5 separate regions of the Homo sapiens genome follow, and regions 1, 2, 3 and 4 are each linked to region 5. The links come from fine-mapping of genetic effects on gene expression. A gene starts in region 5. Each other region holds a variant in brackets. All regions are shown on one strand. Distances are from middle to middle. Region 1 overlaps CPNE8 (copine 8). Region 2 overlaps CPNE8 (copine 8). Region 3 has its middle 130 kb from the start of ALG10B. Region 4 overlaps CPNE8 (copine 8). Region 5 holds the start of CPNE8 (copine 8).

Region 1 (5,110 bases), 77 kb after region 5:
ACATTTTCTTGACCTACATATCCAGATGGTGTTGGTGCCCTTATTTTATAGATATATGAGTTTGCACTGTACTTATGGTATTTAAATTCTTATGTGGCATATCAGTCTGGAATCAGAACATCAGAGTTTGTCTTGGCTCTGCTATTTATGGAAAATCAACCTTCTAGAGTTTTAGTTTCTATTTTTTAAATTAAATTAAATTAAATTAAAAATTTTTGTGAGTACATAGTAGGTGTATGCATTTATGAGGTACATGAGATGTTTTGATATAGGCATGCAATGTGAAATAAGCACTTAGTTTCTTTATATGTGAAATGCAGTGTTAATATCAGACCTCTCATTTACAGGGTTATTCTGAGTCTTGAAAATAAGAATCATACGGTTGTATGTTAATGAACGTTATAGTATATTTTACTTAACCCATTTTTAGGCACTTACAATATGCTAGTATTAACTCATGCAATAACTAATTGAACCCTCAGAACAATTTTGTGAGGAGGTACTAATACATTATAGAGAAGAGCAAACTGCAGAGCTTAATTAATTGCCTACAATCACAGTTAGTAAGTGGTAGTACTAGAATAGACACCTGGCAGGTTGGCTGTGGACCCTAGTTGAGGCTACTGCATCACATGACCTTTCTCTAAGTGTTACTGGGATTAGCCACCTCTGCTGTGGGCTTTCTCATTTTGTCTCCTCAGCCAACAATTCCAGTAATTCAGAGGCATCCGAAGTTAAGCCAATTGTGCATTCAAAACCTCCAACTTTTGTCTATTTTGTATTGTAACTTAAAACATAAAAAGAAAACAAATGCAATGCCTGTGAACTCAGAATAACTGCTCTGTGATTAAAAACACAAAATGCTGTGCAAACATGTGAAAGTCACATGGTAAGATTAATGCATATTGAGCTTATTTTACTTATTGTTGGAAGTTAGAAATGTCAATATTTCAGCAATGAAAACAATGCAGATGTATGATGTACAAAACATATACTGTAAAGATAGTTTGGAAACTTATGAGCTTTAATCTTTTTATCTATTTCAGGACTTTCTGGGACAAGTGTTTTGTACATTGGGAGAGATCGTTGGTTCACAGGGAAGTCGCCTGGAAAAACCAATAGTGTAAGTATTTTTTAATTCAGACAATGAAATGCCAACTTTAACAGTTTCTATTTTGTCAGTTTGGAATTGGTGAATGCATGGTTGTGGAGCAAAAGTGGGTTTTAAAATCTTGTTTGAGTTTTTTCTTTTAACAAATAATTTTGACATATTTTTAAAGAATAATTTCTATGTCACCTGTCATATGCTATGCTAAAAAATTTTCACAAGATGAAATGAGCAAATTTAAATAAGGAAATGTGTTGTTTTTCTTTTGGTTGTACTATTAATTATCAGATTTCGTACTTCTTGAAAAAGAGATTTTACTCTTTTGGGTTAGTAAATATATGTAGTAAACTGCTGTTAATACCATGTATTTCATAAATGCACTTTTGGTTATTGAAATTTTCATAATAATTTTTACCATGGAAGTGGCTTGTAGAGAAAGCTGTAAGTAGGTAAATATTGGGAGAAGGTAATCACTAAGAATGGTCTATTCCATCTTCACCTTCAATTACTAGGATCATGTTTAGTTTTCATGTCAATTGCATGAGTTGATTCTGTTTCCTCCAGTTCCAAATAAGGCAGGGAGCAAATTTTAGAAATTTTTCATGGCTTTATTCTCCTTTCCTCCTTCTTCCCCTTCCCTAATCCTGATTATTTGGATTGACTTAACTGTTCATAAAATTCAGAAGATCTAGAAAGAATAGTACATTTGCAGAGTTAACCACAATCTCAAAAGCTTTAGGGAATTTTGAAGTCTTTATCTTCATCAACCTTTTAAGAATCTCAAACTCAAAAAATAAATATTCCAATACTCCATAAATCTGTTTATTTCTGACATAAATACTTGAAATGGCAAGGCATTATTCTCACATTTCTTATATAAAATTAAACTTTTTATTTAGTGTGTTCATTGCTATGCAAGAAATTATTAGGCTAATAAGAATTCTATAAATTCTAAGTTTTTGAAATTTAATTTGATTTCCTTAGAAAATTATTACCGAATGTCAGTTTGAAAACTTTCATATATCAGCTCCCATTTTAAATTCTTTTTGTGTGTAATTTATTTTCACATAATTATAGGACTTGGAAGCTTATTACAAAAATATATTTATGCTCACTTTAGTAAGTAGTAAGCAATCTGTGAGGCAGATGCAAATATTTTATTGAGTGCATATAATTCTAATTGCATCTCCTATTCTAGTGACTTATGCTCACAAGGATTCCTAAGACCACTAAATCTACCTTTTGTTTTTTGTCGTTAAAAAGAATCAATAATATATGCAATACCACCTTAAAGATGCCTTTAACATTCTTCAAGAGAAAACAAAAGCAATTAAAATACAGAATTTTCATTTCCAAGCAACAGAATAGAGATTTTTATGAATGGGTACACTTCTTATTCATTTATTTATTTGTTAGCTTTTATTTTAGGTTCAGAGGTACTTGTGCAGGTTTGTTAGGTAGATAAATTGCACATCACAGGGCTTTGGCATACAGATTATTTCATCACCCAGGTAATAAGCATAGTACCCCATAGGTAGTTTTTCGGTCCTCACTTTCCTCCCTTCCTCCACCCTCAAG[T/C]AGGCTCCAGTGTCTGCTGTTTCCTTCTTTGTGTCCATGACTACTCAATGTTTATCTCCCGCTTATAAGTGAGAACATGTGGTATTTGGTTTTCTGTTCCTGTGTCAATTTGCTTAGGATAATGGCCTCTAGTTCCATTACTGTTGCTACAAAGGTTAAAATTTCAGACTTTTTTATGTCTATATAATATTCCATGTTGTATATTTACCACATTTTATTTATCCAGTCCACCATTGGTGGGCATTTAGGTTGATTCCATGTCTTTGCTATTGTGAATAGTGCTGCAATGAACATAAACATGAATGTCTTTATGGTAGAACAATTTATATTCCTTTGGCTATGTACCCAATAATGGGATTGCTGGGTCAAATGGTAATTCTGTTTTAAGTTGTTTGAGAAATCACCAAATTGCTTTACACAATGGCTGAACTAATTTACATTTCCACCAGCAGCATATAAGTGTTCCCTTTTCTCTGCAGCCTCACCAGCATCTGTTATTTTTTGACTTTTTAGTAATAGCCACTCTGACTGTTCTAAGATGATATCTCATTATGGTTTTTATTTGCATTTCTCTAATGATTAGTGATGTTGAGCATTTCTTTCCTATGCACGTTGGCTATGTGGTATACTTTTTTTTTTTTTTTTTTTTGAGACGGAGTCTCCCTTTGTTGTCCAGGCGCAATCTCTGCTCACTGCAACCTCTGCCTCCCGGGTTCAAGTGATTCTTCTGCCTCAGCCTCCCGAGTAGCTGGGATTACAGGCGCACGTGTGGCACCCTGCTAATTTTTTTTTTTTTTTTTTTGTATTTTTAGTAGAGACGGGGTTTCAGCATGTTGGTCAGGCTGGTCTCGAACTCCTGACCTCGTGATCTGCCCGCCTCGGCCTCCCAAAGTTCTGGGATTACAGGCGTGAGCCACTGCACCCAGCCTATGTGGTATACATATTTTTAAATTAGTAATTTTATTGGAAATTTTTATCTGTTTTTTTAACATAAGGAAATCATAATTCTAATTTCAGAAAATGATTAAATTATTAAGTTATAAAAAATTTACCAGTGGAAAATCATATTTATATTAATCTTGGAATATATTAAAAATTTGATATTATTATAATGTGTTGATTGGGGTATGTGGTGAATAGAACATAGCATAAGATATGGTCCTTGTTCAGCTGATTCAACAATTCCCACTAGGTATGACCAGCAAAAATAAATTCTTGCTAAGAGGTGAAGATACCTAGGGTAGACTGGTAGAATATGCAGATGTTGGGAGAATTTGCTGGGGGTTGAGTCATGATCATTTTATGTAATCAGAAAGGATGAGATTTAGATTTTTCTTAGCTCTTGCTAAGGGCGGGGTATAACATACACATATTTCATATAGTGTAATGAGGGAAAGACTTCAAAACTTGTTCATCCAACATGGATCTACAGTAACCACATGCTGTGCTTCATCTATAGGATATTCTGAAATTTAGACAACTTTATTGAAGGTCCTCAGGTTCTATCTTTCTTACTGAAAAAGGAATAATTAATTTGATTTTCTAAGCTTATATCACTAAATTTTATTCAGCCCTTCATCTCCTTGGACAGTCTTGTCAGGCAAATAAACATTAAGAAAATAGTTTAAAGGTAAGATTATTGTTTGAGCAGTGGAAGATTTCTAAATTTTTCTAAGAAAACTTAGCTAGGCAAGTTTTAGTACTAAGTGGGTAAGAAAATGTAAAGCTTGAGTGTAGCAAAGAGATGGACTACAAAAGAAAAAAGCAAAGAAACAAAACCTTAGGAATTGCAGACTGGTTGCAATTACATTCATTAAACAGTAGTGAATTGGATTAGATACCTGAGATAATCCAATAGAGGAAAGAGATGAGAGGGTGAAATGAAATAGGAAAGATTAATTAAAAATGGGAGAGTAAAAGTGAATACGATTAGTTTGCTAGTGGAAAGATATTTTGGCTTTATTAATTAAGGCACCTAGTGACGTGCTATCACTGGATCAGATGTTCCAACGCAGGTGAACAATGGACTGGAAAAAACATTTTGTAGTCACCCTTCGTCTTACATAGAAAAGACTGGCTTTAATGAAAAACTCTAGCTGTGAGAGAGGCATATGTCTGGAGGAAGAACATGTGGATTGAAGAACAAGGTCTGTTGGCTAAGTTTTAAGTTCAGGTACTTTGAGAGAAGATACAGCTTCTATGCAAATAGCATTTTACTCCCTTACCTCAGTCTCAAATGAAAAACACAACCATTCATACTTTTTGTTTGAAAAAGCACAATTGGGTTGAGGAAGAGCAAAATGCTGTTTTCATGGAAGCTTTATCTGCGAATAATGCCAAGATAGCCCTTCAGAGCAGCTGGTCCACTCCATGGAGTCCTAAATTCCACATTCATCCTTGCTAACTCCTGCTCTTCCATGTACT
Region 2 (5,110 bases), 210 kb after region 5:
GGAGGAGGTACCATGCTCCTTTTAGCAACCACCTCTCACGTGAACTAACAGAGTGAGAACTTCCCTCATTACTAGGAAGATGGTACCAAGCCATTCATGGGGGATCCTACCCCATGACCTAAACACCTCCCACCAGTCCCCATCACCAACATTGAGATTTGGAGGGGACAAACATCCAAACTATATCAGTGGGAATGTAAAATTGTACAGCCACTTTAGAAAAACACTTTGCTAAGTTCCTCACATTGTTAAATATAGAGTTACCATATGACCTAGCAATTTCATTCCTAGATATATACTCAAGAGACTTAAAAACATATGTCAGCAAAAAAACTTATACGTGAATATATATAACAGCATAATATCCCAAATGTGGAAGCAACCCAAATGTCTAACAAGTGATAAATGATAAAATCCATACAATGGAATACTATTCTGCAATAAACAAAAATAAAGCACTAATACATGCAGGCTATAAGATAGATGGTTGTTGAGATCTATAAGCTAAGTGAAAGCAGCTAGTTACAAAAGATCACATGTTATGTGATTCTGTTTTTATGAACTGTCAAGAAGAGACAAATCAATGGAGACAAAAAGACGATTAGTGATTATTTAGGGCTAGGGTGGTAACTAATGGGTACGGTTTCTTTTTGAAGTGATAAAAATGTTCTGAAATTAACTATAGTGATGATTGCACATAACTATGAATATAGTAACAATCATTGAATTGTTCTTTGTTTTATTTTGTTTTGTTTTTTGAGATGGGGGATCTCACTCTGTCGCCCAGGCTGGAGTACAGGGGTGCAATCTCAGCTCACTGCAACCTCCACTTCCAGGGCTCAAGTGATTCTCCAGCCTCAGCCTCCCAAGTAGCTGGGACTACAGGCACATGCCACCAACTCCTGGCTAATTTGTGTGTTTTTTGTAAAGACGAGATTTTGCCATGTTGCCTAGGCTGGTCTCGAATTCCTGAGCTCAAAGCGATCCACCCACCTTGGCCTCCCAAAGTGCTGGGATTACAGGCATGAGCCACCATGCCCAGCTGAATTATATATTTTAAATGGTTAATACGTAACTTATGCCATTATGTCTCAATAAACTCTTAAAAATATTCTATTGAACTGTGAGTTTCTTACAAAGGTATAGTACATCTCTAAAGCAAAATCAGATATAATTTTGATAATATTGGGTATAACAAAAGTATACATATTGTCAGTTTGTTGAAAGGGTTAAGTGAGCTATGATATAAAATTGTCAATACATGTTAAGTTCCGTGTTATAATTATTATGGCTATTAGTTGGGCCCCAATGTTATTAACCTACTACAAATTCATTGTTTAAAAGCATCTTTGCAGATACAGAGGAAATACAAACACTGTCCCAGACTCAAGGAGTTGACTCAATACTTTAAATTGCCATTTTTTTTTTTTTTTTAGTATAGAACACAAGATCCATAACAGTATAAGAGAAAAGACAATAAGGGCTGGAATAAACAAAAAGGGTTGTCTAGTATGTGTGAGACATAAGTTGGAGGAGGAGAAGGTGAATTTCAGGACAGGGTGGCAACTTGAGAGGTAGAGGTGGGAGGGAAAGTATCATTAGCAGTAATGTGAAGAGACTGGTGTAGAGGAAGATGCTGGAAAGAGATAGGTAACATCTTTGTATGGGTACAAAGGGCCCAGCTATGCATGTTAGGTTAAAATGTTTAAATGTTCTGGGGTACTAATTATATTTTTTTATTTACAGTTTTCATAGTGAAGTAAAAGTATTTGCCATATTGTCACCATTGGATTAAAACTCTTCTATATTTGTGAGTTTGAGAGTTGGGGGAAGTATTCGTTTGTTTGTTTGTTTGTGTTTGTTTTTGAGACAGGGTCTTGCTCTGTTGCTCAGGCTGGAGTACAGTGACACTATCAGGGGCTCACTGCACCCTTGACCTCCCGGACTCAAGTGATCTCCCACATCTCAGCTTCCTGAGCAGCTGAGACTACAGGCACATGCCACCACACCCAGCTGATTTTTGTATTTTTTGTAGAGGCAGGGTTTCACCATGTTGGCCAGGCTGGTTGCAAACTCCTGGGCTCAAGCTGTCCACCTGCCTCAGCCTCCCAGAGTGCTAGGATTTCAGGCATGAGAGTTGTGTTAAATAACCATTTAGTCTAGTAATGGTATTTTTAAATCTCTGATTCCACTGGGCTTTGGATCAAGTGGCAAAGTCCCTACTTTAGAAGCAAGTGTCAAAGAAAAATCACACTGGACACATTAAAAAGGCAAGAAAGGCTTTATTTAAGACCATTGCAAAGGGGTCAAGACTGTTACAACAGAGGACAAAAATTGAACTCAACTACTCCAAAACAAAAGGTTGGAGTGTTTGTGCTTGCTGAGGTGAGCTACTGGAAAAGTCCTAGAGGACATTAGCCCGGAAGTTGGTTTGTGTGCTTAGGCCATCTCTGTTTGCTAATTGGTTCTTATTGAAGTTAGGCTTCTATCTTCTCACGGAGACTGGAAGATAGGGCTGCTGTTTTTCTTGATGTTTATATTTCAAAGGGATGCCTTCCATGTCCTTGAGAAAGATACTCCTTGGTTGTAGAAGATTTACATCTCAAAGGTGCAGAGGAAGAATTTACAATTGCAAGTTTTCTAAAGTGAGAGCTGTAAGAAAAGAGCGGTCAGGGTCTTATAGTCAGGAAGGAACTTTCTACAAGTTTAGTCAAGTTGAGGGGAACATTAGGCCATTTTGATAAGAAGATACTTTTTTAGTGATTTTGTTA[T/A]GTGGAGCCAGCCCTTGAACGCTGGTAACTCTTGGAAATATAAAATAAAAAAAAGTTCAATTAATTGTTTTTAGGACAAAAATATTATGTGTATAATTACCTGTCAAATAACCCAAGGGGAGATCTTTATTTTGTTTCTCTCTGGATCTCAAGTGCTTTTTGTTACTTTTGTTCCTTATCAGAAAAACTATGTCCTGAGGCTTTTCTTCTTCAGACAATGCTTTAACGTAAAATTGAGGTTCATATGCTGCTACAAGTCTCATTTAACTTTCCATTTTTATTTAAGGAACCAAATGGACTTTCAGGCTGCCTTTATGCTGGTAATTAGGGCAACTTGTTGTGAATTTCAATGTGTTTGAGTGGTAGCACATATTAATACATTACACTTTCTCTCAATTTCATCACTATTCAAGTGCAACATCCTACACAGTATAAGCATTTTGAAATTCAGAACCTTGTGGATGACCCAGACTATAATAACTGCAGCAGTTCAGCTTACAATTTTATGGTGCTTTATTATTTTTAATCACTTTTAAACGTGTAATCTCATTTTGTCCTCCGGGTAAACACAGTGGTAGGATTTATTTTACAGAGGCTGCCATACAAATGGCAAGACTTGACTCTGGCCTCTGGCTCCTAGCTTAATGTCTCATTCGAAAGTTGTGAAGAATTTTTTAGATCTAGATATTTAATCAGCCTGCACTTGAAAATCACTATACTTCCCTTTTTTAAGTGCTAAATTGGGATACTTCTCAAATATTCAGTTATTTATAGGAAGCCTTCATAATTATTGAAGTCCATTAAATCTATTGGGTCATCTTGCCATAGGCATAAGGATTCAAGCTAAAGGCACATGATTTTGTTTAAAAATAAAGATTACAATAAAATAAGATTAACAAAAGTACTTTTATACTTCCAGAACAAAAACTCAAAAATACCCTGTGGCATTGAAAATAAGAATCATTTCTGAAAACTTCTGCGTATGCTTTGGCATATCTTAGAACTTTCTATATGTCTAATATAATATAACAAATATTTCTGTGTTAATATCCATCCAAAAAGAAATGATTTGACACACTGTATATAGGCAGAAAAACATAATTTTGAATATTTCATTCTGAAATAGACACCAAGAAAAATTTTGTTAAATTTATTTACCCTAATTGCTTATGTTTGAAATATGTGTTCTGTCATCAGGCAACCCTGCTCAGCCCACTTCCCTCCACTACATGAATCCTTACCAACTGAATGCCTATGGTATGGCACTAAAAGCAGTGGGAGAAATTGTTCAAGATTATGACAGTGATAAAATGTTTCCAGCTCTAGGATTTGGTGCAAAACTGCCTCCAGATGGAAGGATATCTCACGAATTTGCTTTGGTAAGAATTTGTCAAAAGGATTTGATGTTTTGAAAAATTAATGTTAGACCTTTTAATATTGCTTTGGTACTTATTCTTTAGTCAGTCAAGTAGCAAGCTTTACTGACTGTAGCTTAATTTTGGTAAGTAATTGACTTTGGAGTGTGAACTTAATGGGAAAAAAGGACAGCTAAATAGCTTAGCCATAAATCTACCTGAAGTGCACCCACCTGATTTACAAATGGGGGTCTATTTTGGTTATCTATTGCTTGCTAACAAACCTTCCTAAAACTTAGAGATATCAAACAATATCATTCTATTATGCTTATGATTTGTGCCTCAGGAATTCAAGCAGAATATAATGGGAGACAGCGCATTTTTGCTTTGCAGTACCTGGAGTCTCAGCTTAGGTGACTTGAATGGCTAGAGATGCCTGGAATTGGTGACTGGGGCCATATTTTTCAACTTAGTTCTGGCTGTCTTTTGAATTCCTTAGATCTTCTCCATGTTATGTCTTCTGGGGCTGATATGTCTCCTAACATAACTTCTTTGCTCATGTTCATTCATGTCTTGGGCCTGAGCTTGGATAGCTGAAAAGCTGGGGTTGCCTGGACAACTCTCCCTTGTTTTACATATGGCCTGTCTCTGTAGTTATGGAGGGCTTCAGAACTGTATAGTGGTCTCACTGTAGCAAGATTTCTTATGTAGCAGCCAGCTTTCCCAGGGTGAGTAATCTAAAAGTCTAGGACAGAAACTCCAAGGATGTTTATATCATATTCTTAGAAGTCCCAAAATGTTATTTCTGCAACATCCTATTGGTCAGGCAAGTTACTAAGACCATCCCAGGTTCAAGGTAGAGGAATTAACCTTCACTTCTCAATGGGAAGAGTATCAAAGAATGTGTGGCTCTCTGTAATGTACCATCATTTTTAAAACCTAAGAAAAGAAATAATTGTGTTAAACTAAATGAGGTTTATTAAT
Region 3 (5,110 bases), 460 kb after region 5:
AGAGATTTTGCAGCATGTTTACAAATTTTGATAAAAAGTAAAATGCATTTGACACTGAAGACTTATATGGTGGTATTTATGGTATCTGTTACTGCTTATTTAGCCTTTCTCACGAAGATCTGTTAAAGGTTTATGACTGTAATGAAAGACAAATACTTTGCCTTTCATTCTGAGATGTTTACTAAGTAGTTCATCTTCTCGATTTTAAACCAGTTTTTAGTTCAGTGAGCAGATATTATGTCAGCTCATAAGTGCTTTAATGCCAGTTTCTTGAGAGAGAAGCATTACTGGCTCCCCCAGGAGTTTTTTGTTTGTTTATTTTAGACTTGGGAAAGTTTCACAAGTATACAGAGTCTCAGATCCAAAATAATACTCTTAGAGTCAGGACAAATAGAAAAGCTCTAAAATGGTCCCAGTCACTTGTTATTCTGCATTTAGACAGCCTAGATATTGTAACTGGACAGAATTAATTTTTATCTTAATTCCACATTTTACTAGCTTTGTTATCTTGTAGAAACTGCTTGGTTTCTCTGTAACTGGACAGACTCAAGTTTTTGGCTTAATTTCACATCTTCTTGCTTTGTTATCTTGCAGAAACTGCTTGGTCTCTCTGGGTTAGTTTCTCATTCTGAAAAAATTAATAGAATACGTACTTTTCATGTCTGTCTGTATGTGTGTGTAGATATAGCAACAGCTTCAAGAATTGTGAGCACTTCATACAAAATCTTGTTTAATACTCACGACACTCCTGTAGGTAACTACTATTGTTGTATCCTATTTTACAAAGAAAGAAGCCAAGTTCAGAGACAATAAGGAACTTGCCATAAATCAATGAGCAAATAATTATTGATATTGGGGTGTATTTATAGTGCCCTCACAATTTTCTTCTATTTTATGGTGCATATTTGGGCTTTGTAACTCCTAGGGCAAAGAAATTCAAATGACTTCTGCTTTCAACTTCTGTACATACAAAGATTGAGCCCATTGGATCTAAGTTCCAAGGGCCACAATATATCAAAGCTGAGAGTCCTTGGAGCCAAGCAAGAGAACTATATTTCCACCAAATGAAACTTTGTAGCAATATAGGGAGACATGTGGGAGTGAGAATTACTTATGTCAGGATACGTCAATTATGCAAATTGTACTTAAAAACAAAGGAAAAGACTAAGTGGGGTACCACAGACAGATGCAGTAATTGCCAAAAAAAAAAAAAAAAAAAAAAAAAAAAAACTTGCATTATCATTGTCTTTGGTCCTTCCCCATCTTGGCTGTTTCCATAAAATCATATTTCATCTTCAAAACAATCTTATGATCCAAACAAACTTATTCTACTTTTTAGATTATAAGACCTAGACTCAAAAGGTAACTTTCCCAAGGTCAGAGAATTTTCAATAATGCACTTAAAACTCAACTTTGATGACCTCTGTGGTTCTGGCCATGGGTTTATCTAAATACTCTTGAACTTAGCTTTACTTACTTACATATATTCTGAATGGTAGCACATTTAAGAATTTTACTGCCACTGTGGGAAGTGCTTTTATCTTTGGTTCTGAAAATTATTTCAAGGCGCTGATATAGAGGTAGAGGTGGCAACTAGAACAAGAAGAAAATAATGGAATTAATGAGATATGGTGTTATGATCTGAATGTTTATGTCCCTTCACAATTCATATATGAAACCTAACCTCCAAGATAATTGTCTTAAGTTGTGGAACCATTGAGAAGTGATTAGATCATGAGGCTTTACCTTTATGAATGAGATTAATGCCTTTATAAAAGTGCTTGAGGGCGTTTGTTTGCTCCTTCCACTGGGTGAGGACACAACAAAAAGGTACCACCTTTGAAGGACAGCAGCCCTCACTAGATACTGAATCTTCTGGCACCTTGATCTTGGACTTTCTAGCCTTCAGGACTGTAAACAATAGATTTCTATTGTTTATAAATTACCCAGTCTAAGGTATTTTGTTTTAGCAGCTGGAACAGTCTAGGACATAAGAATTTTCTCTAGG[C/T]CTTCATTCCATTAGGTATATACTGTATATACACCTATTGTGTATATATATACACACACATATATATGTATATATATACACACACATATGTATATATGTATATGTATATATTTATATATACACACACATATATGTATATATGTGTGTGTATTTATTTATATATACACACACATATATGTATATATGTGTATGTATATATTTATATATATAAATATATATAAAAATATATATAAATATATATATAAATATGTATATAAATATATATAAAAATATATATAAATATATATATAAATATGTATATAAATATATATAAATATATACATATATAAATATATATAAAAATATATACATATATATAAATATATATATATATTAGAATAGAAGTCAACTAGACCATTCAAAGTCCATGGAGGTCTATTTGCCTGTGGAAGGGTCCCAGAACATTTGTAATCCTTCTGATACAGGGAAAATTATATGTGTACTTAAATATCTGCAGTTGCTTTAGGGTGAGAAACCAAGCCTAAGACACATTTTTATTACATACCTAATGTGGGCTGTGAACTGTGTTTGTCCTAGGCTTATGGTGGTGACTTTTAAGAAGTACAAAGAGTCTGAAATTCTACTCTACTTTCAAGCTTACAAGTTAGCCTGCCACAGGTGCATGAATACTGGCATAATGCATGAAACTCTTTGGTCAGAAACAAAGGCCAGTTCATTATTCACAATAATAACATTAGCTGAGCTATAAGCATTTGTAGCAGCTCTCCAGGCCTAGATTTTCCCTGGGTGCTGTAAAGAGTGCTGGGTAGGTAGCAAATGTACACATAGTGGAATGTGTTACAGGCAAGGACCCCTGAGTTTAGGAAATTCTAATCTTTTATAAGGTGCAGTAAGCATGCCTGACCTTTGCATTATGTATACTACACTAAACAGCAAGAATGACTGCTTGAGATACACTATGTTGTTACATATCTTAGCAAACATGCTTGAAAGATAGGAGAAAAGGCAGTCGATGTTTCTGCTATCAACATGTGTAGATACCTGAGACACTCATGGACACTTGTTTCCCAATAATAGCAAAAGACTACTCATACAGTTCTCTGCCTTCATGGACATTTTTTTGTCTTGGTTTGTAAACAAATGCCAAGGTTAATATTATAGGCCCTCATATCCATGAGTTCTACATCCATGGATTCAACCAACGGCAAATTGAAAATTTTTGAAACAAAATTGCATCTGCACTGTATATGTGCAGACTTTTTTCCTTGTAATTATTCCAACAGTACAGTATAGCAACTATTTACATAGGTTTTACATTGTATTAGGTATTATAAGTAATCTTGAGATGATTAAAAATATACAAAGGACGTACCTACAAAGTATTTGATAGGTTTATGCAAATACTGTGCCATTTTCTGAAAGGAAATTCAGCATCCATTGATTTCTGATATCCACAGGAAGTCCTGGAACAAATCCCCAACAGACACTGAGGAACAATTGTAATTATAAATTGTGATAATAATTGAGAAGAAAAAAGAGCAGTATGCTATCAGAAATGCAGAAGGATGAGTTAGATTCAAGGAGCTTAGAAATGGCTTATCTGAGAAAGGGACTTTTAACCTGAGGTATGAAAAGAAGTTGGGCAGGTAGAATTGAGAAGAAAGCATTGTAAAACAGCATATTTGAAGGTCCAGATTCCCTAGAATTCAGAGATTGTTAGAACAGCCAGGACAGTAGGAATATTCAAGGGAGGAGATAAAGGAAGGGGATGTGATTGAATGGGTAGGCAGAAACAGATTATTATCTGTTTCAAAGAGCAATGAGAAAGCCACGGAATGCTTTAACTGGGAAGTCTAGTCGTCTGATTCACATTTTAAAAGATAGTTATACTATATGTGGGATGCAGAGGAGGAAAAATTAGTGGAAGAGAAAAATCAGATAGGAAGCTGCTGGATGATAGTGTTTGGCAATGATGACGGCAGTAAAGATGAAGATGAGTGATACTCAGGGCTGTCTTTTTTGTTTTAACCTTCTATTTCCTGGCTGTTAAAAAATTGAATATATTTTCACTTTTCCATATCCTTCCCAATTGTGCAGTTTACTACTGAATAGAAGTAGTAAACCATGAGGGAGGCTAAGCTACACTGAAATGTGGGATCTGCAATGGCATGATGATCAGAATATTATCGTACATCCAATTGTTAACAAATATTCCCAGGTTTAGGTCCAATTTGCATATATGTGTTGTTTCCTAGTTGCTGAAACTAAATATTTTTTATCTTTATACCTCATTTCCTGGAATAGTGTTTTGTTTAGTCACCTTAAATATTTGCAAAGTAAATTATTTAATTCATGAATCATGGATGAAAGCATAAAGGATCTGTGATCATCAGGATTTATTTTCTTGTTTTTATGATCACTCTAAGAAACAGAATGGATCTCCAACCCCAAATTTGGTTCAGATATCAAAATTGATGATACTACACTCATACCATGAGGGTAAGAAAAGATTTATTAGTCACACAATAAGGCTTTCTGGGCAGAGCAGGGCATGCCTCCCAAGCTGGTCCAAAAATGTCTTGAGAAAACAGGGAAAGGAGACTGGCATCGGGTTTTTATGAGCTGGGGGTGGGATTGAGGTGAGGGTTCATATGCATAGTTTGAACTTCCTGCCTGCGCAAAAGGAGGAAGCTGGGGGGCTTTGCCAGCTGTAGGGCTTCCCGGGAAGAGGATAGAATGAAACTTACACACTATCAGTAATCGAACATCAAAAAAATGGGATTGGACTCTCGATTATACTTATTTACTAGAATGAAACTTGAGAGACAAGTTTGTATATGATGTATATGTACTGGGGTATGGCAATGTTCACTACAAAGTATAATGTAGTCTTTTCTTGCCATTAAACTTCTGGTCAACAAAGAGGACATTGAGATCAAGTATCTCTCAATACTTCACAATAAGTAGCTATCTTGCAGAATAAAGTTGATCTTGCTAGCTAGATATTAGTTTGTTATTAACAAAATTTTGGTCATTATATTCCTATCACAAAATTATATTTGTATTTAGTAGGTGGCCATTATTATGTATTGTTATCTTATT
Region 4 (5,110 bases), 250 kb after region 5:
TCCTATATGAGAGCCCGAGGAATCAAGCCATCACCTGCGCCTCCCCCATACACCCCACCTACACATGTGTTACAGACTCAAATATGACTGTGCTCTGAAATGCTAATGTCAACTACAAATCAAAAGTGCTGAGTTAATGCTTTGTGCCTGGTGCTCTGTAATGAACCAGGCAATGAGATAGTTTTCTCAGTTTGGTTTCAGCAGTTAATGTGCTTTCTTGGATCCAAATTTAAATATCTTCCTAAACCAAAACTGTAAATATGGTTGTTGCATGAGCAACAGAAAAAATTGTTTAAATGCTTGAAGCAAAGTATGGATGTCTTCTCTAAATCTTTCTTTCTTTTTTTTTTTAACAGAAACAGCTAATTTCCAATGTATTGTTGGGAAAAAGCACAAACTGTGTTTTTAACTCAAATATTGTCTTCGACTGCTATGTGTATAGGAAAGCAGTCTCTGTATCAATGTTTACATGTTACTACTTTTTAAATTTCAATACTTTTATAACTGTTCTTAAAAATAAGAGTTTTAAATACTGAATCCTTTGTCTTCTAAATTGCAATAGCTATAATCACAAGAGCAATATCTCTTTGAATGACTGTCTGGACAAACACAATTGCAAATAAGGGAAGGGAAAAATGCTTTTCTATTTTTCAGTAACTGGATTGTCTTAAGAAACTACATCTGCTTAATAAACAATTTCTCAGCAATGTTTGCTGGGTATGGGAGTTTAAGCCCGGCAGATGTGTCTCCTGGTTGAACATGCATTTTTCATGGAGTTTGGGTTCTAAATTTAGACTGCAGTTGGTTTGTATTTTGTAACACTAAGTAGAAATTATAAAAAGTCAAACATTGTGATCTATAAATGCACAGAAAATACTTTGTAAAAAGTAGCATCCTTATATAATAATGCTATTTAGAAAGACTGAAACCAAGACTATTTAACTGTGAACTATGTAGCAGATGTTTTAAACTTTTTATTCCATTATATCTTGTCTAGATATTTTAATTCAAAGGGATACTGGCTCTCTTGATCGGAATTTCTTGTTATCACCATTCCACGTTGCCACACAAGGTGCACAGGCTGGAAGTCTTTTGTGAAATTCCCAGTTAAATATATACAACTATGTGACTTAGTGCACAACACATTTGTGAAATAACCTACTCCTATATACTGACCTGCCTGTCCACGAATAATTGTAAAGGGTTTTTGCATGTACAGTTTTTACAAGAATTACAGTTTTGTGAAGTTGTGTCTAAATTAAAGCATTTCTTTAGAACAAATGGCCTTAAATTCTCACGGAATTCCTGGAAATGATTGTGAATTGCCTTCAAATAATAGAAAAGTGTATTTATTTGTGTGTGTGTGTGTGTCAAAAATGTAACTGCTTTATAATATTTTTTCCTTACCTATATATTCTATTTAATACTTGGTTTATTTCTACTGTACATTGTTTTCTTTGTCCCAAGTTGACCTAGGGTGACTTTTATAAGCATGAAACTATTTTACTGGAAAGAAAAATATATACATCCACATATCTAACAGTATCAATGTTATATAACTATGTAATAATTGTTGATTTTTAATTATGTATTAAAATCTTTAAATCATAACTATTTGCTTTGTACGTTTCATGTATGAATGACAATAGTTTGATGATTTCCTTTACTGATCTTAAATATTTATGCCACTACAGTGTATTACCTACAGATTTTTAAATTTAGCTTTATTTATCAACCCAAAAAACAAATAAATAAGATCAATATTCTTTTCTTCTTGTCAAACATCAGTTATTTTTTTGAACTGTCCAGAGAAAACAAAAGTTGTACAATTCCTTGTATAAATAATAGATTGCTCAAACCTAGTGGGAGTAAATGGCCAGGAATGAAGCAATTTCTCTTTACAAATGTTATCATTTATATGGCTGAGAATGATAATCAGAAACTTATGTGAAGTTAATGCTACATGTAAGATTAGAAAATACGTAAATCTTGTGTATTCATTGCAAAAATGTAGTAAACCAAGATTGGAGGGATTAAGTGATGTATCCAAGACTATATAACTAGAGAAGAGCTCATTACCATCTTGGAAATATTTGTTATAACTTACATTTTGTTAGTTGCTATTAGGTGCTATGCAATAGGAAATCCCAGAGACATGCTTCATAAAGGAAAACACATAGTAATAGTTGTACATACAAACTGGTTATCAGGGATATTTACACTTACGGTAATGAGCAACAAGAAAGGTATATATTGAGAAGGGGTGATAGATTCAAGTCATTAAACCTGCTGCAGAAGTCAGTCTTCAAGTGGTGCCCTCAAGAACCCCAGAGACTTTGGGCACTGTCCTATCTTTGTAATCTCATTTCCTTCCTCTCCAATGAAAGCCTCTAATTATCATTTGAACTCCAGGATGAACTCTTGGTGTTATTTTCAAGTATCTCCATCATCTGAATTTGCCCAGTTATGTAATACCAATTCCTATTGCTTCTCAAATTAATATTAAAACTAACCAGGCCTGCCTCATTCCTTTTCCGCAACCACTCCGAGTTTACCTGGAGTCTGTCTATAGTGTTCATACTCTGTTCTCTCATCAAGCCCTCTTCTCTGGTCTTTACCTGAGGATATCCTTTGCACTTTCCAACTCAAGCCCCAGCTCCTCTGAACCTTGTTCTTTAAAACTTCAATGCTAACAATAATCAGTACTTTCTATGAGCTCATCTTTGTATTGCATTTCAGCATATTAATTGCCTCAGATTATTTCTAAACTATTTTATTTTATCTGGGGCATCTTGTCTCTCCATCCTTATGGAATAGTATTTAATGGCACCTGGTAAATTTTTAAAGCTCCCCAGTTTATTGTAATGTGTAGCTAGAGTGTGAAATTGCTGCAACTAAAGACTATTGGATGACTCAATTACTACTTTTTAAATTATCTCTTCCAACATGCAATATCGAGAGAAAAGAAGAGGTGGATATGACTCTGGTGGTGGTGAATGTGGGAAGAGAGTGGATTTGGGATTAGGGTTGGAGCATAGGTTATTTTGTTTTTCAGGCTCAGGGAAGATAATAGATGGACTCATGCACTTTTTTTTTTTATTACTGTGTCATCATCA[A/G]CTTAGGAAATAAAGACCTCTCACAAAGATGAGGTGGATGTGGTTATTTCTTAGAAGACCTGAAATGCCAAAGATTTTACTGAAGAGCATGCCTTTTTCTTTCAGCTTGCGTGAATTTTATTTAATGACTTTGTGTTACATATAGCTGTAATTGAGACAAAGTGGCCAGATTCTTCATAAAAACTCAGAGTAAAGAATAATTTTTGTGATTAGCACAAATCAGATACATTTACTAATAAATAAGCTGCTGAGTTGAGGATCAAATAGATTGAGTGCATGTGGAGTGTTACCTATGAAGATGGAAAAGATGGAAATCTACTTGCAAAAAGTCACACTTGTGCAGAGCTTTCTCATCAGTGTGTTACAGATGATTTACAGATTTATGCCTTGCAGATGGGCTACAGGTGTGCACCTTGGGGTGGTGTATAGTGCCTGGGGTAATTGGAGCTCCCAGCCTCCATCATGTTCATTGGCTAACCTCAGGATATTTTAACAAACATTCCCATTTTTAATGTGTGTCTTGAAATGTAGGGAAGCACTGCATTACAGAGATTATTTCCTAAATAACCTCTGCTTACAGCCAGTTCCACCTTCATTTTTTCTACTTATATGCCCTACGATATTTATACTGAAATTAAATTGAAAGAGTATTCACATACAATTCCATGGCAAATGTATTGTAGCAAATAAACTTCAGAGGAATAAGACATGAATGTCCTTGCATTTTTCACCACCTTCTTCATAAACATCCTACCACTCACGAAAATAGGTGTATCATCAGATGACCCAGAGGACATCAAAGCGTAGAGTCAAAGGGATTCAACCTTGTTATTTCCTTAGAATAAACACTGTTCTAGAAGACATCCTCTTCTCCCAACCATGACTGTTCCCCTCACCCCACTTTCCTACCAAGTATCACTCTATTTGCTCTGTTGATACCTGAGCGTCATTTAACAATAGGCAGTCCTTCATTTTACAAACTATTGGGATGTGCTGAGATCAGATACACGGATCTTAAGAATAAGCACATTTTAAAAACATATTGACATAATTCTTTGCACCAAAATTTTTTCTAAAAAAACCTTTCTTCATCATATCTTAGTTACTTAGGTATGACTTTGATAAGGGAAGACTTGGTATATCATGAACATGCACAAGTTTTAAACGGCTTCCTTAGGAAATGTGAAAGGGGAAATAGAGAAGCAACAAACAAGTATTTTCTCATGAGTTATTGCCTAAGCTATGTTTATAACTCTTAAGAGATGATTATCCTAAGCAATGCTCACCTCCTAGATTTCAGGTTTTTAACCTGGAATGAGGAGATACCAAGTAGAAGTACTTTCCCAACACAGAGTAGCCCATAACAAAATTATTTTTCTTTAAATTGATATGACCCCCACCCCCAGCTACCATTTTACTGTATAGAATCTTACTTCTTTGTCTCTAAGCAAAATATGCTAACATAATACACAGAAGTCTCCAAATATAATGTCTATACTAAGATTATCTCAAAGACATAATAGTTCTAATTCATATCACAAACTTTTGAGCAGTATTTGAGGCAATATATTCACACCTCATCAGTCAGGGTTATTGCTTACCTCATACTTCATCAGCACACCCCCAACCCCAACAGCTAACCTTGCTCTTATTTTCTGGCTTTAGAGATGCTCTGAATGTCAAACTCTGAGAGGAAAATGACCACTGAACTCTGACTATGGAAAGAGCAAAAGCAAACTGATCGAAAGATTTGCTCATTTAGTTTTAAAGCAATAGTGACCATGACCTCATGATTTTCTCACCACAAAGTTATTCACCAATTTAATTTCCATGAAACAGGCCTGCTGGGCATTCCTAATGTATTTAGATAAGCTGATTTCATACAGATGGGATTTGCTATCAGTCAAATGGGTGGATGTCATTGACCTCACAAATTAGGGGGAAGGATAAAGGAAGGAATATGCTTAGGGTTGGCTTAAAAATAGCTACTCTTT
Region 5 (5,110 bases):
GGTTGTTTCAGTGATGAAAGGAGGTACTGATTACGACGTAAGAAAACTTTTGGGTGATGGAATGATTCATTATTTTGATTTTGGTGATGGCTTCACAGGGAGATACATGAGTCAACATTTATCGAATGATGGATGCACTTTAAGTGCAGTTCATTATATATGTTATACCTCACTGAAGTGGAAACAAATTGGATGTAAGTATCCCACATGTTGACTACTAAAGTTCTCAAGTTTCATCTCTTCAGTAGGCTTCTGTAAAGTAAAATTCTGGTGAGCTTAAAAAAAAACCTAGATCTCTATGCCAAATTAACTTTGAGCAGCATAATAGAAATGCCTGGGGTTTTAGGGCATTTCCAAATCGCAGTAAACTACAGTTTAATTTGTAATAGGACAAGAGGAAGGAAAAAAAAAGAAGAAAAAGCGGTGGGTGGGGAAATCAGGAAAGGAAAGCAAGAAGAAACAGGGGAAGTACACTCGGCAGGGGAATCGGCAAGACTGCACCTACACACTCTCACCCGCCTCTATAGATTCTCTAGGCAGGAGGCTGCAAGTGGATTAAAATGTTACAACGCAAGGCAAGTCCTCCACCGCAAAAACTGCTCCTCCCAGACTTAGCCCAACCAGCTGGAAACTCCGTGCTTGGAGCGTTAAATCGGACGGACACCCGCCCCCTCTCCACCCTCTGCCTTCCAGCTGCGCCGCATCCTGTTCTCCGTCGCCGCCTGGTGGCGAGCTCCCGGGACCCGCAGGCGCTCGGGTGAGGCAGGAGGGAAGGCGCGGGGAACAAAGGTCCCTGCAGTGGAGGGGCGCCTCGTCTACCTCCGGATGCTTTTGCCACGACTCCGTCTTGGCACCAGTCTTGCTGCCCTGGAATGCAGTTTCCCAAACGCAGCGCTCACTCTGACTCCTCTCTGCTTTTATCCGTCAGGTCTCAGTTCTTGCGGGTGGGAGTCGGCTGAAGGAGCTGCGTTATATGGTTGTGACATCACCCTCCCCGGCCCCCATTTTCAGGTCAGAACTTTCATGCCTTTGGAAACGAGGGACCCAGAAGAGCCCTTACTGTAGGAGGAATGTCGCCGTTAGACCTCTAAGCTCCGAAGAACCAAGGGGAGACAGAATCCAGATTGCTTCCTTAAATCCCAAGTAGTATTGTTTTTTCCACCTTAGAGTCCGCCCCCCCGCCCCCACTTGTCCCATATATTGATCGGCCACTTTGCCACCGTGTTCCAAGGTTGGAGAGCGTCACAATGCCCCACCGTCCCCAACTCTCAAGTGGCCGACAGTGGGCAGTCCAGAAGCTGGGACCAGACTCATCTGCCCGAGGGCACAGTAGGAGGGACGGAGGGATCTCCCAAGAGCTCCGAGGGCGAGGTGAGAACCAATTGTGGGGAGGGGGACCTTATAACGGGGCAGTTAGGAACGGGCAGAGGTGCCCCCACCTCCAGCTTTCAACTCAGGCGAGGAAACTTCGAGACCTTCCCGTCCACACCTGATTGACAGAAGGAAGCTGTCGCGGCCCAGGAGGCGAGTGTGGGTGTGCAGAGGTGGAGACAAAACCTAAAAGCACGCAGAGCCGGCGAGGGCTTGCGGTCCTGGACGGTAGGGGTCTGCGTCTGGTGCCACCTTCTCCATCAGGCTGCTTGCTGGGTCCACCAAGCCTGACCCCTCCAGCCAGGAGGGGATCACGGAGTGTGTCCCCCGCCCGGGCTGCTGCCTGCCGGAAGGGGGCTGGGAAACCGGGATCCCCGCGCGCCACTTGCCTGGCAGCGTCAGTTTCACCCAGGACTGGCTAGCGGTTCCCTCGTGGCTCTGCGCGGAGGTCCGCCTCCTCCCTTCCCTCCCCCATCCCGCGCGCTGCCTCCGCCTCCTTCTTCTGCCTCCACCCTCAACCCCCATCCCCGCCTGACGGGAGCTAGCCCTCAGTCCGCCCGAGCTGTGGTTGTGGGCGCCGGACAAGTCCAAGGCGCCTCCTCCCAATATGGACAGCCGCTACAACAGCACTGCGGGCATCGGGGACTTGAACCAGCTGAGCGCTGCCATCCCGGCCACGCGGGTGGAGGTGTCCGTGTCCTGCAGGTGAGGACGCAGCCCTTCCCCTCTCTCCTGCCCTCTCATCTGTGGGGTTGGTAGCACTTGGAGAGCGCTCGGGGTACCACGAGGCTTTGCGCAGGCAAGAAGTTGCGCCATGAGTGGGAAATATCTCAGTAGTGGGGCTGGAGTTACCCCGGGTCAGGTGACACAGGGGAGCGGGAATTAGAAGCGGTGGGCTCCGGGACTGAGACTTTGTATTTTCTTTCTGGGAAACGCTGTAAAAGTTGGCTGGGCTGTGACTCAGCTGTGGGAACACCGGCCGCCGCCCACTTTACAAGCCGGTTTTCCGCCCCAAACCCGGGCTGGATGGTTGGGTGATGACCGGAATCGAAGGGGACAGCACTGCCAAAAGCTCTTGTGACCGCTGCACGCTTAGGCCCGGGACTTCCTCTGCTAGGCGTGTGCAAACCTGCTGTTGCTAGGGTTGGCTCCAACCCCGGCAGCTTCCTCCCCACCCACTTCCTGGAGCCTTCCAGCTTGCTTCTCCCCGACCCTTCCGGGCTTTTTGCCTTTTGCCTGATAGGTAGAGATTTCGGCCCTCCTTGCAGACGAATCTATGCCTTACCTAAGATCTGGGAAGTCACGACTTTTGTTTTGATTTGTTTTCGGGCCCACATCTGAGTGCTTGTAAAAACTGACTCTCGGCCGGGCGCAGTGGCTCAGTACAGTTTATACGCCTGTATTCCCAGCACTTTGGGAGGCCAAGGCGGGTGGATCACGAGGTCAGGAGTTCGAGACCAGCCTGGCCAATATGGTGAAACTCCGTCTCTACTAAAAATGCAAAAATTAGCCGGACGTGGTGGCACGCGCCTGTAGTCCCAGCTACTCGGGAGACTGAGACAGGAGAATCGCTTGAACCCGGGATGTGGATGTTGCAATGAGCTGAGATCTTGCCATTGCACTCCAGCCTGGGCGACAGCGCAAGACTCCATCTCAAAAAAAAAAAAAAAACAAAAAAAAACTGACTTTCAACCCTGTCCAGAGACTGTAAATTGCAAACTCGTTGTCCTGACCTTTCGGTTAGTTGCCCTGTAAATAAAGCAGCATCACCGCTATATCATAGATGATTTTGAGAAGGAGATGAGCGATGGTGCTAAATTGGTACTGGCCACTAATTTGCGAATTAATATTGACCCTGGAGCCCACTCCCTTGTTTGCATAATTGGGTCTGTCTCACTGGAAAACTGGCTCCTCATTTATCCATTTTTGCCCTAAGATTGTTTTTATGCCCTCACATCCTCCCTTTCCTTTCCTTAGCAAACTTGCCTTGAAGATATCTAACAAATTTGGGTGATCTTGATGTAAATAAGTTTAAAATTCCATCAATCTTGACTTTGCATTTTCACAAACTGAGCCTAAAGCCAAAGGAATTCTTTTCTGGGGGTGAAAATTCGAGCACCAGCAACCGTAGTAGAAGTATTATTTGAGGGTAGGGGACAGCCTTTATCTAGCCCTGAAACTATATCACCTGATTGTTTGCCGCCTCTTAAGACTGATCTGGGACTATGGAAATAATCATGCTGATAATGATAGCTATCATTAAGCTCTTGCCTCATTGCTGTCACTGCTTTAAGTGCTGCCTGAGATTTTTCTGTCAATGGAACAGGTGAAGCTGTTTGGAAAACTCTTTAGAGGATTCCTAGGCCTTTTTCTTTTCTCTGAAGCTTGCTTTCGATGTTAGAGGGAAGTTACTGGTATATACAGATAATGGATAGCCGGAAGTCCTACAATAACAGCATTACTAGAGTTCTTATCCTCTGCTCAACAGTCTGCAAAGTCTGAATGGCATGTGGCCTATACTTGGAATGAATATAAAAGAATATTGTCAATCAAGTCTGAATTTTTCCATGAGCTTTTTAAGGGAAATTATACCTAAACTGGTCATTCTGCCAGTAGGGCCCATGTTTAATGCAGCCCCTTTTTTGATGCATGTTTTCTGTGAGTGTGCTGGGCATACTGAAGTCAATTGGCTTAAGGCAATTTGTTTCAGTTTGCTGCCTCAGAACCTGCAAATCCCTTGTTCCAGCTTTTTTTCATAACATTGCTTTGACATTTTGTTTTTAATTTTTAAGATTTCTAACAGGAAAAAAAAATCCTGAAAGAGAACCTGAATACTTAGTGTCAAGCATCTCTGCCAGGGGCACTAGTGCTTAGTCTATTGTTTGAGTTGCTTCTGACTCAGCTTACTATTTACGATAAGTTTGAGGTAAAAAGCATCTTTTGGGCAAAGAGAAACATAATTAAATACCCAAGTTAGTGCCTTTGGAATAGGTTTGGGAATAGTTCCTGAAAAGGTGGGTTAAATTTATTTTTAATACATTAAAATTCAAAGATAAAAATATTTGAGTATTGTTGGATCTTGTAACCATAGGAGGTGGTTTAGTTTGGGCTTTGGCATCAGAGACCTAAGTACAAATTCTGGCTTTGTGACTTGTTCTTGCTACCTTGGAGTAAGTTCTTATTCAGTCTGTCTAAGCATTCTCATCTCCAAAAATAAGAATAGTTATGGTATTTACCTTATATAGAGTGTTATCAAGGTGATGTGTGAAAGCGCTTACACAATGCATGAAACAAAAACATGTTTTCAAAAATGTTAGCTATTATTATAATACTGGAAATAACATTTGTTGAATAAATGTGTTATATATGATTCAGGTATGGAATTCTGTAAAAGTCCTTCTCTTTTGAACTTCAATAAGTTGGTTAAAGAACACAAGGATAGAACCAGCATTGGGATACCTGTTCCCGCTTTCTCTATCTTCTTTGATGTGCATCAAGAACATGTTTTGTAGAAAGGTTGTGGGGATTTCACTTAGCAACAAAGCACAGTTGAAGGCCTCTGAGCCTTGCTATGGGCAGGCAGAGTAAGGAATTCCCTTGCCTTACTATACCAGAGACTTCTGAGGATTTGCCCACACTTCAAAAGCAGCTCAGATTTGAATAGGTTCTTTCTTTCTCATTCTTTATCTTTCTTTCTCTCTCTCCTTTCTTTCTTTCTTTCTTTTTCTTTCTTTCTTTC

What was found. PIP is the estimated chance that this variant, and not a neighbour inherited with it, causes the effect.
Region 1: its variant is the best candidate, but not a certain one, in a credible set for the expression of CPNE8 in whole blood (INTERVAL, PIP 0.53).
Region 2: its variant is the best candidate, but not a certain one, in a credible set for the expression of CPNE8 in tibial nerve (GTEx, PIP 0.66).
Region 3: its variant is the best candidate, but not a certain one, in a credible set for the expression of CPNE8 in whole blood (TOPMed, PIP 0.53).
Region 4: its variant is the best candidate, but not a certain one, in a credible set for the expression of CPNE8 in whole blood (TOPMed, PIP 0.77).

Annotation. Positions count from the first base shown.
Region 1 is chr12:38,825,392-38,830,501 of GRCh38, reverse strand. CPNE8 (copine 8) reads left to right here. Exons shown (of 20, transcript NM_153634.3): 6 at 1,047-1,123. Among named protein-coding and RNA genes, the nearest start is that of CPNE8, 78 kb to the left of the region's middle. The variant T/C (reference allele first, on the strand shown) is at 2,687.
Region 2 is chr12:38,692,697-38,697,806 of GRCh38, reverse strand. CPNE8 (copine 8) reads left to right here. Exons shown (of 20, transcript NM_153634.3): 15 at 3,969-4,150. Among named protein-coding and RNA genes, the nearest start is that of CPNE8, 210 kb to the left of the region's middle. The variant T/A (reference allele first, on the strand shown) is at 2,772.
Region 3 is chr12:38,444,642-38,449,751 of GRCh38, reverse strand. No RefSeq gene overlaps it. Among named protein-coding and RNA genes, the nearest start is that of ALG10B, 130 kb to the right of the region's middle. The variant C/T (reference allele first, on the strand shown) is at 2,009.
Region 4 is chr12:38,648,859-38,653,968 of GRCh38, reverse strand. CPNE8 (copine 8) reads left to right here. Exons shown (of 20, transcript NM_153634.3): 20 at 1-1,766. The coding sequence ends at 87. Among named protein-coding and RNA genes, the nearest start is that of CPNE8, 250 kb to the left of the region's middle. The variant A/G (reference allele first, on the strand shown) is at 3,117.
Region 5 is chr12:38,902,403-38,907,512 of GRCh38, reverse strand. It overlaps CPNE8 (copine 8), which reads left to right and starts at 1,922. Exons shown (of 20, transcript NM_153634.3): 1 at 1,922-2,076. The coding sequence starts at 1,979. CPNE8-AS1 (CPNE8 antisense RNA 1) reads right to left here and starts at 1,801. Exons shown (of 2, transcript XR_007063275.1): 1 at 516-1,801. RefSeq lists an enhancer at 378-637 and a silencer at 1,768-1,937.